Regions from separate parts of the Homo sapiens genome. Here region 2 is linked to region 1. Evidence: fine-mapped expression QTL. A gene starts in region 1. The other region holds a variant in brackets. All regions are shown on one strand. Distances are from middle to middle. Region 1 holds the start of OR2L13 (olfactory receptor family 2 subfamily L member 13). Region 2 overlaps OR2AJ1 (olfactory receptor family 2 subfamily AJ member 1).

Region 1 (8,576 bases):
TTATTTTTATTCCATATGAATTTTAAAATTGTTTTCTCTAATCCTGTGAGGAATGTCATTGATAGTTTGACCTAGGAATAGCATTGAATCTGTAAATTGCTTTGGGCAGTATGGCCATTTTAAGAATATTGATTCTTCCTATCCATGAACATGGAAAGTTTTTCTATTTGTTGGTGTCTCTCCAATTCCTTTGATCAGCATTTTATATTTCTCATTGTAGAGATCTTTCACCACCGTCATTAGCTGTATTCTTTTCATGGCCATAGTGAATAGGATTGAGCTCCTGATTTGGCTCTTACCTTGGCTGCTATTGGTGTATAGAAATGACACTGACTTTTGTACATTGATTTTGTATGCTGAAACTTTGCTGAAGTTATTTATCAAATCAGGGAGCTTTTGGACAGAGACTATGGGGTTTTCCAGATATAGAATGGTATCATCTATAAAGAGAGATATGTTGACTTCCTTCCTTCCTGTTTAAATGCTTTTCATTTTTCACTCTTGCCTAATTGCTCTGGCTAAGACTTCCTACATAATACATATTAATACTTAATGTGTATGTACCTAACAACATAATGTCAAAATAGATGAGGCAAAAACATATAGGACAACAAAAGAGAAATACATAAATCTGCAATTAAAGTTGGATATTCAGCACCCCTCTGTTAGTAACTGATACATCCAGAGGCAGGAAAACAGTAAGAATATAACTGAACAGCACCATCAACCAACTGGATCTATTTCACATCTGTGGACTACTCCATTCAACAACATTAGAATACACACTCATCAAAGTACACCACATTCTGGTCTATAAAACAGACTTTCACAAATTATACCTGCCTCACAGTCTTCTTAGAAGGGTTACACTGGTTAAACCAAAACTTTATTGTCACTAAGAAATTGTAAAGAATCTCTAAACTCATTATAAGCTCCCAGGCTTCATGGAGACACCATCACAGAGTAATTCATTACATCCTGGATTTTTTTTAATTGATCGCACCTACTGAAACCCCTTGTCTATAATATCCATCACCGCTCCAACTTGTTAATGAGTAACTTCCATCTCTGCAGAAAGAAAAAGATGCTCAATCTTTGGTCAGAGCCTCCAAGGAGTATGATTGAATCTTTGACAGCCATATTTTCCTCTAAAGAATTTATGTTTCTGTGCAGATGAAGATGGAAATGGAAATGTAAAAAGGAGATGCTGAGAGGGGCTGAGCCTTGTGCAAAAGTAGAGAGTGGGTTTAGGCAGGAGCACGGTCATTTCATACGCTGTCACAGGAAACAAGGCTGAGTATATGGTACAGAATGAGGGAGGCTGATACAGTTCATGGAAGAAAAGTTTGAAATCTGATTGTTTTATTAACAGGTTTGTTTATTTTTCCCAGAGGAGTCTAAGAGATGTGGAAGTGGGGTAAGGTTTGGGGAAAGCAGGAGGAGGCATGGATCACTACTTTTCAGAGAAAGTCTGCAGAGAACAAGAACATACTGTGACGTGGCAAAAGGGCCATGAGATTTGTATTCATAAATCTGAGATGTATTGTCATAAATTTGAGGTGAGATGCATCATCATATATTGGACTTTCCTCAAGTCACGTTTCATTGCTGTGTATGGATCTTACAGGGACGGTAACAGGCTGAGAATGAGTTTTACCTGGGTTTGAGTTTTGCACTGAGTTAAATGCAAGCAGCACCACATTGCAGCAGGGAAAAACATAGAAGTTACCAAAGACTAACAAGAGCAATAAAAAATCTGTATGTGATCATAACTGGTCCACTCTTCTTATTTAAAGCACTAGAATGGCTTTGTCCAGTTTCGTACTTCATCGTATTTGCATCCAGTATTTATTGAGTCTCATCTCATCATCTCCTAGGACAAAGGGTGCCAAGATAATTCAAGAATCCAGCATTACTTTAGTTCCGGTTCCATCCATGTTGTTGCAAATGAAAGGAATTCACTCTTATTTTTTTTTATGGTTGAATAGTGTTCTATGTATCTAGTAAATTTTCATTATCCATTATATTACATGAAATAAGCCAGGCACAGAAAGACAAACTTTGAGCATTCTTGCTCATATGTGGGAGCTAAAATTAAAAAATAATAAATATAGTAGAATGACTGTTACCAGAGGCTCGGCAGAGTAGAGTAGAGTGGGGAATAAACTGGAGATGATTAATGGGCTCAAAAATACAGTTAGGATGAATAAGACTTAGAATGTAGTAGCACAACAGGATGACTATAGTTAACAATAATTTATTGTATATTTCAAAATAACTAAAAGTGGAATTGGAACATTTCTAACAGAAAAAATTAATAAATGCTTGAGGTAATAGGTACCCCAAATACCCTTATTTGCTCATTACACATTGAATGCCTGTATTGAAACATCACATGTACCTCATGAATATATGCAACCATTAGATAATCATAATAATTCTAAAAAATTAAAGGAAAAAAACAAAGAACATGGATATTAATTTTATAGCATTATTTCTAATTTCTGACATAAAATATAGCAGTTAGTGCCTTCAAAGATAAAAAAAGAACAATATAACCCCAAATAAAGTGTTCTTTTCTAGTTAACCAATGTATGGATTAAAGAGGTTAAGAGATGCTACAGTTGATTGAGCCCTTCCTCTGCAACAGACACTATGTAAACATTTGGCATACATCATTCTATTTAATTATTAGAATGTCCCTCAAATTAGTCCAGTTGTAAAGATTAGTAACAGGCTGAAATCTTAAGTAATTTTCCCAACTCAGCTTCCTAATTAGTGGCATAGCTGTCAGACTAGAGTATTCTCTCTGACTCTAAATGCTCATTTTATCACATTGTCTCTAAGAGTCAGCTTTCACTTTAGTAGAATAGCTAAATGGATATATATTGTCATGTATCAATTATCTACCCCCACCTAACAAGTAGAAGGAAGTGTTTTATCCTAGTATAATTTAATTTAGTCACAATCATCAATCATTCCCCCTGGAAACTCACTAAAGAGTGGACAGGAAACTATCCTTGGGACTAGTTCTGCTATTACTGAGTCGAGTACTTGTAAGTGGTTCCTGCACTTTTTTAATCCGGAATTCTCTAACTTACATGATGACAGAATTTCCATAAACATAATTTAACATCTTCTATAGCTCTGAAATCATGTACTGGAATATTAAATACACCCCTCTTTAGTCTGATTCTGGGTAGCAGCTGAATGCAGCAAAGTTGATTGGGTTGGTTGATTTGCTTTAAGTTCAGAATTTGAGTTCATCCCCAAATCAGCAAAGTCAAGTGAAGTGACCAAGGTTTTGGCCCCCGTGGACTTGGACACTGGAGATCAATTAGAGGAGAAAGAGGAATATCTAAGGGTTGGTGACTTAAGGTTCTGTGTGTAAAATATAGCCATTCATCCTTCTGTCTTCCAATGGTGGAACCTGAGAGACTTCAGTGTAAAATGCCTTATTCTGTTCTCACTGAAACAAGGTAAGAGGAAAGGAAGAGACTTTATCTAAACACTGCATATGCAAACAGGATAATATTTCACAAGAGCTGGTGAAGTTGTTTTCTGATTTCACCATAAAGACAATGACTAGCTGTGGGAGCTGTAAGGAATGAATATTATAAAGTGTTACCTGGTGTTTCTTCCTCATGAATTTTGGCAGATAAAGAAGAGATTCTCACTTCAGAAAGAGTTTTGGTTTAATGCAGAGCCTATTGATCAGTGATATAATGTTATTGATAGCCTGATATACTATCAGAACATAGTTTGATGCTTACATGTTTTAAATAATTATATGGAATGTTTGCAGATTATGATGTCACTGTAAAGCTGCTGCTTTTTTTTTTTTTTTTTGAGATGGAGTCTCACTATGTCACCCAGGCTGGAGTGCAGGGTCACGATCTCAGCTCACTGCAACTTCTGCCTCCCAGGTTCAAGTGATTCTTCTGCCTCAGCCTCCCGAGTGGATGGGATCACAGGCGCATGCCACCACGCCTGGCTAATTTTTGTGTTTTTAGTAGAGATGGGGTGTCACCATATTGGTCAGGCTGGTCCCGAACTCCTGACCTCGTGATCCGCCCGCCTTGGCCTCCCAAAGTGCTGGGCTTACAGACCTGAGCCACTGCGCCTGGCCATAAAACTGCTTTTTATACCACTATATAAACTGAAGAACTTCGGGCAAAGTGAGTCATAGTAATATAACTGAATTGAGTTGATTTGGGTCGGCTTTATCCTAGAAAGCTTTTTTGGAAATGTTTTCCTATCATCAGGAAACTCTCTGCTGCACAGGGAATAGACAGTTCCATAACAAATTGAAAAAGAAGGCTGGGCACCCAGGTGGCTCATGCCTGTAATCCCAGCACTTTGGGAGGCCGAGGTGGGCAGATCACGAGGTCAGGAGATCGAGACCATCCTGGCTAACACAGTGAAACCCGGTCTCTACTGAAAATACAAAAATAAAAATTAGCCGGGCGTGGTGGTGGGCGCCTGTAGTCCCAGCTACTGGGGAGGCTGAGGCAGGAGAAGGGCGTGAACCCGGGAGGCGGAGCTTGCAGTGAGCCAAGATCAGGCCACTGCACTCCAGCCTGGGCGACACAGTGAGACTCTGTCTCAAAAAAAAAAAAAATGAAAACCAAGAGTGAACTAAAAATGTAAAAAAAGGTAACATGAACTTGTTAGAGTTGCACTATGTGCAGCTCTCAAACAATGTGACATTAATAAAAACATTTTCTCAGGGCGTGAGGGCTCTCCATGGTTAACACAGGGAATGGGCAAAGGACAGTGACAATTACTAAGGACCTACTATGTGCTGAACACACAGAACTGTGAATTCTCTTTATAGTTGTCCTATACGTTGTTGAGATTGAGGGAGCTGAGTCTATGACTATTTGCTATTGGTCTCCTGCTGATTGTTTAAAAGAGTTTTAAGAAGCATTCACTAATTGTAATTTTGCAAAATAAATTCAGGACCCTACACTTGCTACACTTACATTGTTAGTTTCTGTGAAATGAGGTGTTTTTTAACTCTATAAATTTCAGCAACGTATCTTTTAGAATGAGAAAGAAAATAAACTTTTTATCTGAGGAATAAGTAGCCCCCTTTAAATTATCAGGCCCAGCAAGATTGAAATGTGGCCGCAGTCACATCTCACTCTTTCTTGAGCTAGGTAATCATCTCTTGAATCTACGTGCTATGGGGGCTCTGGACTGACTTGTGGCAACTAACCATGAATTAACCTATCAATCCCCTAAACCACATATCCTATAGTTAAATAATGCATAACCAATCACTGATCAATGTTGTTTCTGAAACCAGTGAGACTTGCTGATAAATAACTTTAGAATTTGTCTCCACTCCTGATTCCTCCCTTTCTTTACCTTAAAAACTTGGGTCTCTTCTTGTTCTCCAGGTTACTTGCCACAGAAGTGTTTCTGGGCTGCAGCCCTCAACCTTGGCCCAAATAAACTTTCTGTATTAATTTTGCCTTAGTGTCGTTCTTTAAGTCAACAAGGATGGCCAAGGCAGTCACTAATCTCACACTCACCTGATAGCCACAGGAACAACATTTTCCCAGCTATAAGGTAACCGACAGAATGATGCTTCATGTAATTCTGGTGCATGAAATAAGGTCCCATGTCTAACAAGGAAAGCTGCTGGACATCAATGGAAATAGATCCTAAACTCAAACTCCAATATCCCATGACCTAAAATCTCCAAGTCCCAGATTCACAGGATCCTAAAAGTAACTATTCTCTTCCATTGCCTAACAACATGCCACTTTTCCATTTTTGGAAACAAAATCATTATTGTAGTAACTGCCATAAAACAATCTTTATAATACTCTGAGCTATAGTCTATGCAACAAAGAATCAAAATGTCTCTCTTCAAAACAACTCCAGGATGGAACACATAAACCTACACCCAAGTCAGCTTGTTCAGGGCTCGGTATTGGATACACCTCATGGGATCATGCTGGCAGCTTTCTTCCCCTGGATTTAAACCTGGATTAAACAAAGGAATTCAGAAAGCACTACAAAAGGCTTTTCCAATTTCCAGGACATGTTGGGCATCCCCTAAGGCCTGGGCACATCAGGACAGTTGGTCGCCCACTTGGGGATGGGACAGCACCTGATGAATCATTCTATCCCCACTGCCTCACTCAGTGACTACTGCATCAAAGGCTGTCAACATGTTAATCTGATAAAATTAATCAAATATTTGCTTGGAACTAAATTACTAGGATAGTTCTTACTGATAGAATGAAGCCACATGAGTTACAAAATCAATCTTTATCATACATACCCTGGAAATTAGAAAAGTCGTTTGGAATACTTTTTGAATTCCTTTGTTTAATCCAATGATCTCTCTGCTTTTTTATTTTTCTATAGAATCGTAATCACTACATAACATCACTGTATGTTTGAGTTTGTTGGTCTATTGTTTGTATAATTATCTCAATTTTAATTACATATTCTAAAATCCTTTGTGTTTCATCACCAAAGCACATCAGTAGCTAGCAGCACTGTCATAAAACATAAATTCAGTGAACACTATTTGAGGAAATGAATGTATCATAATGATGGTTTTCATGTTTTTTTCTGATCAGTTTTTATTTCTAAAGCACTATAAGAAGCAGAGAGTGCCTGTGATCCCATTTGGCATCCAAGTCCAATGCTACTGTGCACCTGTCATGTTCCCAACTTTTCATTGTTAGTGTTTATTCCTTAGACAGCTATAGAAATGAATTTCCATTTTTTTTCCTGTGGCAGGCTCTCTTTCACAATTGTATTCATGCTACCCAAGGTTATATGAACTAACAGTTGAGTTTAAGTTCCTAAATGTGAATAATTGCAACAAACTATGATTTGCTTTTGAACAGCAAAAGTTGAAAAATCAGTAACCCAAGATGACTAACCAAATCAATATGCTGGGCAGGATGAGACATCAGTGTCTGCCTCAGACAGAAGAGCACACACAAAACATGACCTCTCACTCCAAGCCCAGGTAAAGGAAGAAGTCACACAGATGTTAGAAATATAGTTTACGAATACCTGGGAAACTGCATGAAGAAAAAAACAAACTGCCAGATTTGGGGTGGTGTAAAGAGAAAAAGAGAGATTCTAAAAGTCATAAATAAAAATTCCCAAGGAAAAGCCTAGGCATAAAAAGCTAGACAAACTTTCCAGGGAGGGAAAATTATTTATTTTTGTTTGCTTGATTTCTTTATTCTCAATTATTAACATTTAATTGTGTTGTTCTATCTAATTAAATTGGAAGACATGCTTAAGCCATAAATTACAATTGTTCTACTGCTCACACTGGCTTTTCCAGTTGAATAGATTTGTAGCTGCTTGACTCTGCTGTCATCTACAGTAATGAAAATCAAACTATAAGAACAGAAAGTGAATATCCTCTCTAATCTCCATATGCTTCAGATATAGAAATTGATTAAAAAAAACCTGCAGTGTTAGTGGAGAAACAACTCATTCTAAACAAACATTGATAAAGTCAGTTCCTTTTTGTTTTTCTATTGTGTTTTATTTCATGTTTTGTGCTTTGCTTTTGTTTCTATTTCTCTTTCAACAGTTACAGCAGAAAGTTTTCATGGAGAAATGGAATCACACTTCAAATGATTTCATTTTGTTGGGTCTGCTTCCCCCAAATCAAACTGGAATATTTCTCTTGTGCCTTATCATCCTCATATTCTTTCTGGCCTCGGTGGGTAACTCGGCCATGATTCACCTCATCCACGTGGATCCTCGTCTCCACACACCGATGTACTTTCTTCTCAGCCAGCTCTCCCTTATGGACCTGATGTACATCTCCACCACCGTCCCCAAGATGGCGTACAACTTCCTGTCCGGCCAGAAAGGCATCTCCTTCCTGGGATGTGGTGTGCAAAGCTTCTTCTTCCTGACCATGGCGTGTTCTGAAGGCTTACTCCTGACCTCCATGGCCTACGACCGTTATTTGGCCATCTGCCACTCTCTCTATTATCCTATCCGCATGAGTAAAATGATGTGTGTGAAGATGATTGGAGGCTCTTGGACACTGGGGTCCATCAACTCCTTGGCACACACAGTCTTTGCCCTTCATATTCCCTACTGCAGGTCTAGGGCTATTGACCATTTCTTCTGCGATGTCCCAGCCATGTTGCTTCTTGCCTGTACAGATACTTGGGTCTATGAATATATGGTTTTTGTAAGTACAAGCCTCTTTCTCCTTTTCCCTTTCATTGGCATCACTTCTTCCTGTGGCCGAGTCCTATTTGCTGTCTATCATATGCACTCAAAGGAGGGGAGAAAAAAGGCCTTCACCACCATTTCAACACATTTAACTGTAGTGATCTTTTACTATGCACCTTTTGTCTACACCTATCTTCGGCCCAGGAATCTCCGCTCACCAGCTGAAGACAAGATCCTGGCAGTCTTCTACACCATCCTTACCCCCATGCTCAATCCCATTATCTACAGCCTGAGGAATAAGGAAGTCCTGGGGGCTATGAGGAGAGTGTTTGGGATATTCTCTTTCCTGAAAGAATAATCATGGCCATCCCCACTCCCTTTGTATTTCCTCTTTC
Region 2 (8,576 bases), 160 kb before region 1:
TCATCAGAGGCAAGGAAAAAGTCATTTTCCACTTGTTCCTTCCACATGATTGTGGTCACGATGTACTATGGGCCATTTATTTTTACATATATGAGACCTAAATCATACCACACTCCAGGCCAGGATAAGTTCCTGGCAATATTCTATACGATCCTCACACCCACACTCAACCCTTTCATCTACAGCTTTAGGAATAAAGATGTTCTGGCGGTGATGAAAAATATGCTCAAAAGTAACTTTCTGCACAAAAAAATGAATAGGAAAATTCCTGAATGTGTGTTCTGTCTATTTCTATGTTAAATGCCTGAAGGATACTCATGAGAGGTTTCCTAGAAAGAAATCAAAGCTTCTATCTTACCACATATAAGAAGTGAATATTTCAGAAACATTGTTAATAATAAACAATAATATGTGTTTGTGTTGTAAACACGTACCTCTAAAAATGTAGTGTTCCTTCTGTGGTACCAATTATAATCATGCAACAGTTACAGGAAGTAGAAGTTACCCAAGGCGTCCTATTCCCTAACACCAAAATTGTAAGACTTATGAGAATATCCCTAAAAATACAGTCACACATCCATTGTATAAAAGACAAATCCATGTTTATTTTTATAAAACTTTGTTAAATTATATTGCTAACAATCACTTATCAAAAATTCACAAATTCCATATGAAATCATTATTCTTTGCCTGGTTTATCAACACCTTTATTTAGTAAAATTTTACAGATACACATATATATGCACACACACATATATATGTACACACATATATACAGATATAAGTTGTGTTAAAATTGAATTACTCATCCTATGCTAGAAGCAACTATACAATATTAGATAGGAATATCATAAAAATTGCCTTATTTCATTTATACATACAGGATGATGTTTTACAAACTCTTCTAGCAATTTATCCTAATAGTTATTTCAAAGAAGATAATAAATATTTCTATTGAGAATTCATTTAATTTTTTTCCTTTTTTTTTTTTTTTTTTTTACAAACACTAAGACACACTTTGTAAGTTTAAAATGTATGGGCCAGGCGCGGTGGATCACGCCTGTAATCCCAACACTTTCGGAGGCCTAGGTGGGCGGATCACGAGGTCAGCAGATCGAGACCATCCTGACTAACACGGTGAAACCCCGTCTCTACTAAAAATACAAAAAAATTAGCCGGGCGTGGTGGCGGGCGCCTGTAGTCCCAGCTACTCGGGAGGCTGAGGCAGGAGAATGGCGGGAACCCGGGAGGCGGAGCTTGCAGTGAGCCAAGATGGCGCCACCGCACTCCAGCCTGGGCCACAGAGCTAGACTCCATCTCAAAAAAACAAACAAAAAACAAAACAAAAACAAAAACAAAAAACACGTATGAACAGCTTGAGTCAAATCTGCCTTCTGGCAGCTGGGCACCAAGTCTGCTCCCCCGCAGGCTCCTGCCTTCCTTCACATTGCACTGCTCATTGTGTGGTTCTGGTCCTGGGACCTGGTGGTAGGGGCTGGAGAATGGGGATTGGGCAGCCCAGTTCCGCTCTCCTCATGCAGTGTCCTGCGTCTGTCATCTGCTTGGGTTGTGGCTTGTGTGGAAGGACCACGACTGAGGTTGCCAGGCCAGCAAAGACGGGGTGCAGAAGAGTCTCAGCCAGAGTGATGTGCTGGGCAGCGTCCAATTTTACCACCCTCCGCATCAGGTCAAACAGCTGCACGTGCTCCAGAGAGTCTTGGAGCATGTCACTCTTCAGACGTTTGCAGTTCTTCACATATGGGCTGTCAGAGCTGTTCTCATCCCAAACTAGGCCCCATTTGTAGAAATATTTCTGCTTCTTGGTACAGGAGATCACGCGTAATGGGATGAGCCGTAGGGTCTTCAACATCACCAGGCGCTCTTGGTTTTCACAGGTCTGGAAGAGTGTGAAACCTGGTAGTACTTAAAGAGAAGGTAGCCCATGCCCTGGACATGGCAGGGGCGTGTCCAGCCCAGATCAAGGATCAGTTCAGGCAGGCGACAGTGACCGTGGTCACCATGGCGATGTGGTGCCCACGGTCAGAGGTGGCATTGGGGAAGTCAGCCACTCGGACGCTGGTGCTCCTCACTGACTTCTCATCGCTCCTGTGCTCGCTGTAGACGGTGTTTAACTCAGAATCCACATGCAGGATGTTCTCGGTTTTCAGGTGTGCGTGGGTCAGCCGGTTCTCGTGCAGAAATCTAAGGGTGTGGCAGAGCTGGTGGGCCATGTGCCAGACATGTGGGAGGGGAATGGCTGGATGTTATTCTCCTTCGGGAACTCAAGGGTTTTCCTGCCCAGGAGCTCAAAGGTGATATGCATGGACCGCGGAGGGTGAACCAGTCACACCCCAAGACGCACAGCAGCTGGTTCTCTTAGTCCTTCTCGTTTATTTTTTTCGAGAGCGTTGAGTTTTGGCGGTGCCGCCTCCCGGTGCTTGCCCACATTGCAGATGACCCTCCGGCAACCCGAGACGTCCTTCTGGCAGGGTCCAAGCACTCACCCCCTTGCCACAGGCGCCTTGGCCCAGGTTCCCACTTGTCTTTATTGCTCTTGGGGCCAATCACCGACCCGGCCACCAGGTGGCGCCTGTTTATCATCTTCCGCACCTGCGCCCTGGGCTCACTCGCTGGGGCTGCCGGAGGACGCGCTCCTTCAGGACCCGCTGCGGCCACCAGGTGGAGCCTCTTTATCATCTTCCGCACCCGAGCCCCGGGCTCACTCGCTGGGGCTGCCGGAGGACGCGCTGCTGCGAGACCAGCCGCGGCGTCTTTGGCAGTAGTGGGCGTGCTTGCGGGTCCAGGAGGGCCCCTCTCCCGCGACCGCCGACCACGATGAGAGCGTGAAGACCCTCTCGAAAGGAAGGGCTCTGCTCTACACACTGGTGTCTCCTGCGGAAGGGCAGCTGGGCACGCCTTCCAGACCGAGGTATCAGACGAGAGGCCCCCTGGGGACGGGGCGGTTACCGCAGTCTCCCTTCTTGCTCCCGACTGTCAGCCCTCCTCCCCTCCCATCAGCAGCTCAGGGATGGGGCTGGCTCTGGGGCCTCCTCTTCCATCAACCCCTCAGCTACGGGGCTGGTTCAGGGGACTCCTCCCCTCCCATCAGCAGCTCAGGGATGGGGCTGGCTCTGGGGCCTCCTCTTCCATCAACCCCTCAGCTACGGGGCTGGTTCAGGGGACTCCTCCCCTCCCATCAGCAGCTCAGGGATGGGGCTGGCTCTGGGGCCTCCTCTCCCAGGCTCAGCTGCCGCTGGGACCCACTCCCCTGAGCGCCTCTCCCCTAAGTAATGTTATTCATAGCAAAAACTAGAAAAACACATTTTAATGAAATAAATGTTCAGGTTAATTTTATTATAGCATGCCAACTAAATGTTTTATACTATAGAAATAAATATTTAACAAAATATGAAGATATATATGAAACTTTAATGAAAAATGATTAGCCTTTCACAATTGGAAAATTAAAAACAATAGTAATAAATGTTAACCATATTTTGGTGAATTGGACATCATAACATATTGTAGGCATACATGAAATATGGTACAAACATTTTAAAAAGAACAGTGTGGCAATATATATTAAGGACCTTAAATAAACTATGAAATTATCTTCTAATAATACAACTATTTAATGTTCATAATTTAGACATAAAATAAGCAATTATTATATATTAATAACATTTTTTCCCTGACAATTGAGTTTTTTTACTTGATTCCAGTCCTGTAACAGTCTCCTATCCCTGGTGTGCTAAGGAGTTTTATTTCAGTAGAGAATGAGTAAAATTACTAATATAATGATATATAAAAATGTATTGCTAAGAGACGTTCAAAATTGACTGGAAGTGCTAATGTTAATATTAGATGCATCAGGTGCTGTATTTTTTTAAAGCCTGCTTTTACAACTCATAATAATACCTAATGTGGACCCAAGAGCAGCATGAAATCAGAGACAGTAAAAATCCGAATAGCAAGATATTATTGTAAGCAAGAGAAAGTCATTCTGCTGAACAGATCTGAGGATGATATAGAAGTTTAGAAGTCAGAATTCATAGATTTACAAATTTCCAGATTAAAATACAAAAATAATCTGTGATAGGGCTAAAAAACATTTTTTTCCTGTTGGGGATATAGAAACATAGAAACGCCTACATTGAGGGTAGTAGAAGACTTCATGTAAATAAACATGCCCACACACACATGCACACATACACACTGACACACACACATATATTTTTCTTAATAAAGAGTGTAAAGAGCATGGTTCAATCAGTGTGGGATTGTAAAGCATACTTGGATGAAATTGGAAGTGGAAAGTAAGATATTTTAAACATTAACCACATACCTAAAGTACTGCACATAGAAATAATTAGGCTTAAAGGTAAAGCCTATCACAATCTAAAGACATGCATTTGTAGTGGTGCGTGTTCAGATACCTGGGTATTGTGGTGGAGATACACATAGTCTTTTGAACATTCCGTTGTAGGTCGCTGGTAGCTGGATATGTCCTTTAAACTTTTGTGGCAATTCATTTGAGAAGAAACGCAGCTTTTTCTATTGAGTTCTTATGCTATAAGTAAAGGATGCAAGACATTAATTAGACAAAATAAGGTAAAATTTTGTATTCGCTTAGAGAGTTTAAGAGGCTATTAGCCACTAGTCTCTATAGTGCCTAAGTAAATCGATTCTGCTTAATAAACTGCTACCTGGCTTAGTAAGTAAACAAATTGAAACTTATTTTAGGAAAGAAATATATATTCTTATATCTACATCAGATTCTCTTATGTAGAAACACTAGAGGGTGAATGAGGAGTTAATGTAAGCAGCATCATATTTTTGCTCATTCCTTTCTCTATGATTTCTGCTTCTTCTGTCCAAATTCTGTGAGGTGTCCTCTAGATGAAATTATCACAGGCATGGAAAAGGTCATTTTCCACTTGGTCCATCCTCATGATTGCAGTTGTAACATACTGGGACTCATTCATTTTCACATATGTATATGAGACTTAAATCATCCACATTTCAGGCCAGGTTAAGTTTCTAGAAATATTCTATGCTTTCCTTGCACTTACACTCAATCCTGTCGTCTACAGCGTTGGCACTGACAGTGTTCTGGTGGCAATGAAAAATATGCTCTAGAGCAACATTCTACATAAAAAAAAGAATAGGAAAATTCCTTTCACTTGTGTATTCCCTCTATTTCCACATTCAATGTCTATAGAGTGTTGTTAGTTTCTTTGGAAAGAAAACCGAACCTTCT[G/A]TCTTTCTAAGTGTAGAAAGATGTGGATATTTTCAAAACCCCAATAATAATAAAGTTTTTACATATGTTTGTTTTTTCAATGCATGTCTAAAAATGTATTGTTCCTCTTGTGGGTACCGATTTCAATCACTCAACACACTCTAGAAAGACAAAGATAACCTAAGGCTTCCACCACCCTCCCACTAAAATTGTAAGAATATATAAGAATTACATTTGAAATACAATCAAACCATTATATTAAAAACATGTACTAATATAATATCTGTGTTTTTATGAAACTTCCTAAAATTGTATTTCAAGTCTCACAATCAGTTTCTTTTCAAAAATCTACAACTCCACTTGAAATTACCATTATTCATTGAATGGTTTGTTTTGACACTTTAGTTTCCTCAAGTGAAAAATACATGCACATACACATATATACATACACATACTTACATACATTGATTGTAGTCAAATCAAGTTTCTCATTCTTTGTTGGAAGCATGAATACAATATTTAAGAATATCCTGAAAATTATGTCTTATTTCATGTATACATACAGGCTTATATTTTACAAACCCTTCTAACAATTTATCCTAAAAGTTATTGCAAAGAGAAAAATAAATGTTTCTATTAGGAATACTTTTAAATGGTTTTATTAATAGGAAAAACTAGAAAAACATTTTAATGAGGTAAATGTTTTAAGTTAATTTTATCAAGTTAACTAGATTTTGTATATTTAATAAATATCATAAAGTATTTAACAAAATATAAAGGTATCATAGCAAGCTTTAATGGGTGAAAGTGTTACTTTGCCTTCTATAATTGGAAACTTTAAGACAGTAACAATAATTGTTATCAAAGTTTTGGGTTGAATTTAACAGAAAACCTATAGGTATTCCTTATCCAACTCACTGTTGATGAGCACCTAGGTTGAATGTATGTCTTTGCTGTTGTGAATAGTGCAGCAATGAACATATGAATGCATGTGCCTTTTTGGTAGAATGATTTTGTGTGTGTGTGTGCATACGTGCGTGTGTGTGTGTGTGTGTGTGTGTGCGCGCGCTAAGCAATGGAATTGCTGCGTCAAATGGTATCCTTTTTAAATTTTTTGAGAAATCTCCAGACTGCTTTCCATAGCTGCTGGACTAATTTACATTCCCACCAACAGCATATAAGAATTCCCTTTTCTCTGCAGCTTCATCAACATCTGTGCTTTTTTTTAAATTTTTTGTAATAGCCATTGTGACTTGTATGAAATGGTGTCTCATTGTGGTTTTGATTTGCATTTCTGTGATGATTAGTGATGCTGAGTATTTTTTCGTATGCTTGTTGGCCACTTGTATGTCTTCTTCAGAGATGTGTCTGTTCATGTACTTTGTGCATTTTTTAATGGGGTTGTTTTTTGCTTGTTGATTTATTTAACTTCCCTATATATTCTGGGCATTAGATATTTGTCAGATGCTTAGTTTGCAAATATTATTTCCTATTCTGTAGGTTGGCTGTTTCCTCTGTTGGTAGTTTCTTTTGCTGCACAGAAGTTCTTTCATTTAGTTAGGTCCTGCTCATCAATTTTATTTTGTTGCTGTTAATTTTGGAGACTTATAAGTCAGGTAGAGGAGTAAGTATTTGGGTTATATCATAGATATTGAAAGGTTTGCTCTCTGAGGCATGTCAAAAGAGAGTTTAGATATATAAAGAATGGTGAATGGATACTAGACTTTCTGATGAACTAGCATTACCATGCCCCTCATTTATTTATTTACATGGTCATTGTAAAGGAGATATGGAATATGTAAGAAGTTTGTTATATGCATGATACTTGGAGAAATAGACATGGAAGATGAAAAAAATAGATGGATTTTGGTCTTGATTCCTCAATTAAACCAACAAATTCCTGTGGTGCTATTTGGACAGACGCCGAATGGAGAGAGATAGAGAAAAAGAGAGAGAGAGAGAGACCTTGTCATGAAAGAGAGAGACCTTGTCATGAAAGAATTTGTGAAACAAATGGACAAGCATTGGTACCTATAGAACCTAGTGATGGAGTGTGACTCAGAGCTGTGTACAAAGGCTGTCTCTTCATTTCATTAATGAATACAATGTGTGGCAGGGATACAGGAATGTCTCTTATTCTCTTCGGCATCTTAAAGTTTCTGTATGTTTCAGATTTTGTGGCATGGAGCCTTCCTAGTGAGAATCCCAATCATGATTAATTCCCATTTGGTCTCACAAGCTGGTAAATACTGGGAATTATTGTGTTACTATGACTGTAGCCTCCCAGTACCAGTCTTGGTTTCCTTTCTTTCTGTCCTTCAATCCAGACTGGCTTTCAGATACACACATACACAAAAAAACTACATGATCTCACTTACATATTGGGCCTAAAAATAATTGGAATAAGTTGCCCAGACTGGTCTCAAACTCATGGGTGCAAATCATCTGGAAACCATCCTCACAAAATGAATAAAACTAAATTCTGGGTTTTTAACCAAAAGCATAAACTTTTAGTAGAAGCATACAGTAAGCATGAACCAGCTTGCCCAATAACCTATTTTGTGTGGCTGCTTAGTGCTTAAAAGTCATGTAGCCCCTGTCACAAGGTCCTCATTTCCCTTAATTGCTTCTTTAGATATCATCTTTAATATTAGGAAACCTCAAGTTTTCTACATAAAATGTTTTCTAGATCCTGAATTCCAGTGGGTCCACGGAACCAGTGGGGCTACCGAGCTTGTCTGAGAAACTGACTCAGTGTACTACATGTTCTACTTGCCAATAATTAAACTAGTAATATAAATTATATAATATTGGATTAGTCTTAATCCCAGTCTCTTATTGATTCCTAATGACATTTATGAAAATAATTTGGTGTTCTAAATTTTCTATAAAAAATTGCCCAAAGTCATAAAGTAACTGAAAATAAATTGCTCTGCAGAGAAGCAGAAACCTGCCAAAATTTTTAAAAAATGTATTTGGAAATTAAATTAGAATAGTTTCAGTGCATTTAAATGATTTTTATTAGGGTAAATATATATAAGAGAAACACCATTTTAACCATTTTAAGTGTAGAGTTCTGTGTCATTGCACATTTATATTGTGCAATCATCCCTATCGTGCATATCCAAAACAGTTTCATTGTCTCCAACTAACACTTTGTTCTTGTTAAACAATTACTCTCCTTCTCTCCCTTCTCCCATTCCCTGGGGTCCACTCTTCCACTTCCTCTCTCTATGAATTTCACTACTCTGGGTACTTCGTGTAGGCGAATTCATACAATATTTGTCTTTTGTGACGGACTTATTTCGCTTAGCATAATATATTCGAGGTTCATCCA

Evidence for each region. PIP is the estimated chance that this variant, and not a neighbour inherited with it, causes the effect.
Region 2: its variant is fine-mapped to the expression of OR2L13 in pituitary (GTEx, PIP above 0.99). The same link has a PIP of 0.9 or more in amygdala, anterior cingulate cortex, breast, caudate, cerebellar hemisphere and cerebellum.

Annotation. Positions count from the first base shown.
Region 1 is chr1:248,091,776-248,100,351 of GRCh38, forward strand. It overlaps OR2L13 (olfactory receptor family 2 subfamily L member 13), which reads left to right and starts at 3,409. Exons shown (of 3, transcript NM_001395936.1): 1 at 3,409-3,479; 2 at 6,876-7,000; 3 at 7,583-8,576. The coding sequence starts at 7,601. The coding sequence ends at 8,539. LOC105373275 (a long non-coding RNA gene) reads right to left here and starts at 3,767. Exons shown (of 4, transcript XR_949369.3): 1 at 3,629-3,767.
Region 2 is chr1:247,934,456-247,943,031 of GRCh38, forward strand. It overlaps OR2AJ1 (olfactory receptor family 2 subfamily AJ member 1), which reads left to right. Exons shown (of 2, transcript NM_001355235.2): 2 at 1-884. The coding sequence ends at 300. It also overlaps the pseudogene CLK3P2, a transcript of OR2L13 not described here and the pseudogene OR2X1P. Among named protein-coding and RNA genes, the nearest start is that of OR2L8, 10 kb to the right of the region's middle. The variant G/A (reference allele first, on the strand shown) is at 5,261.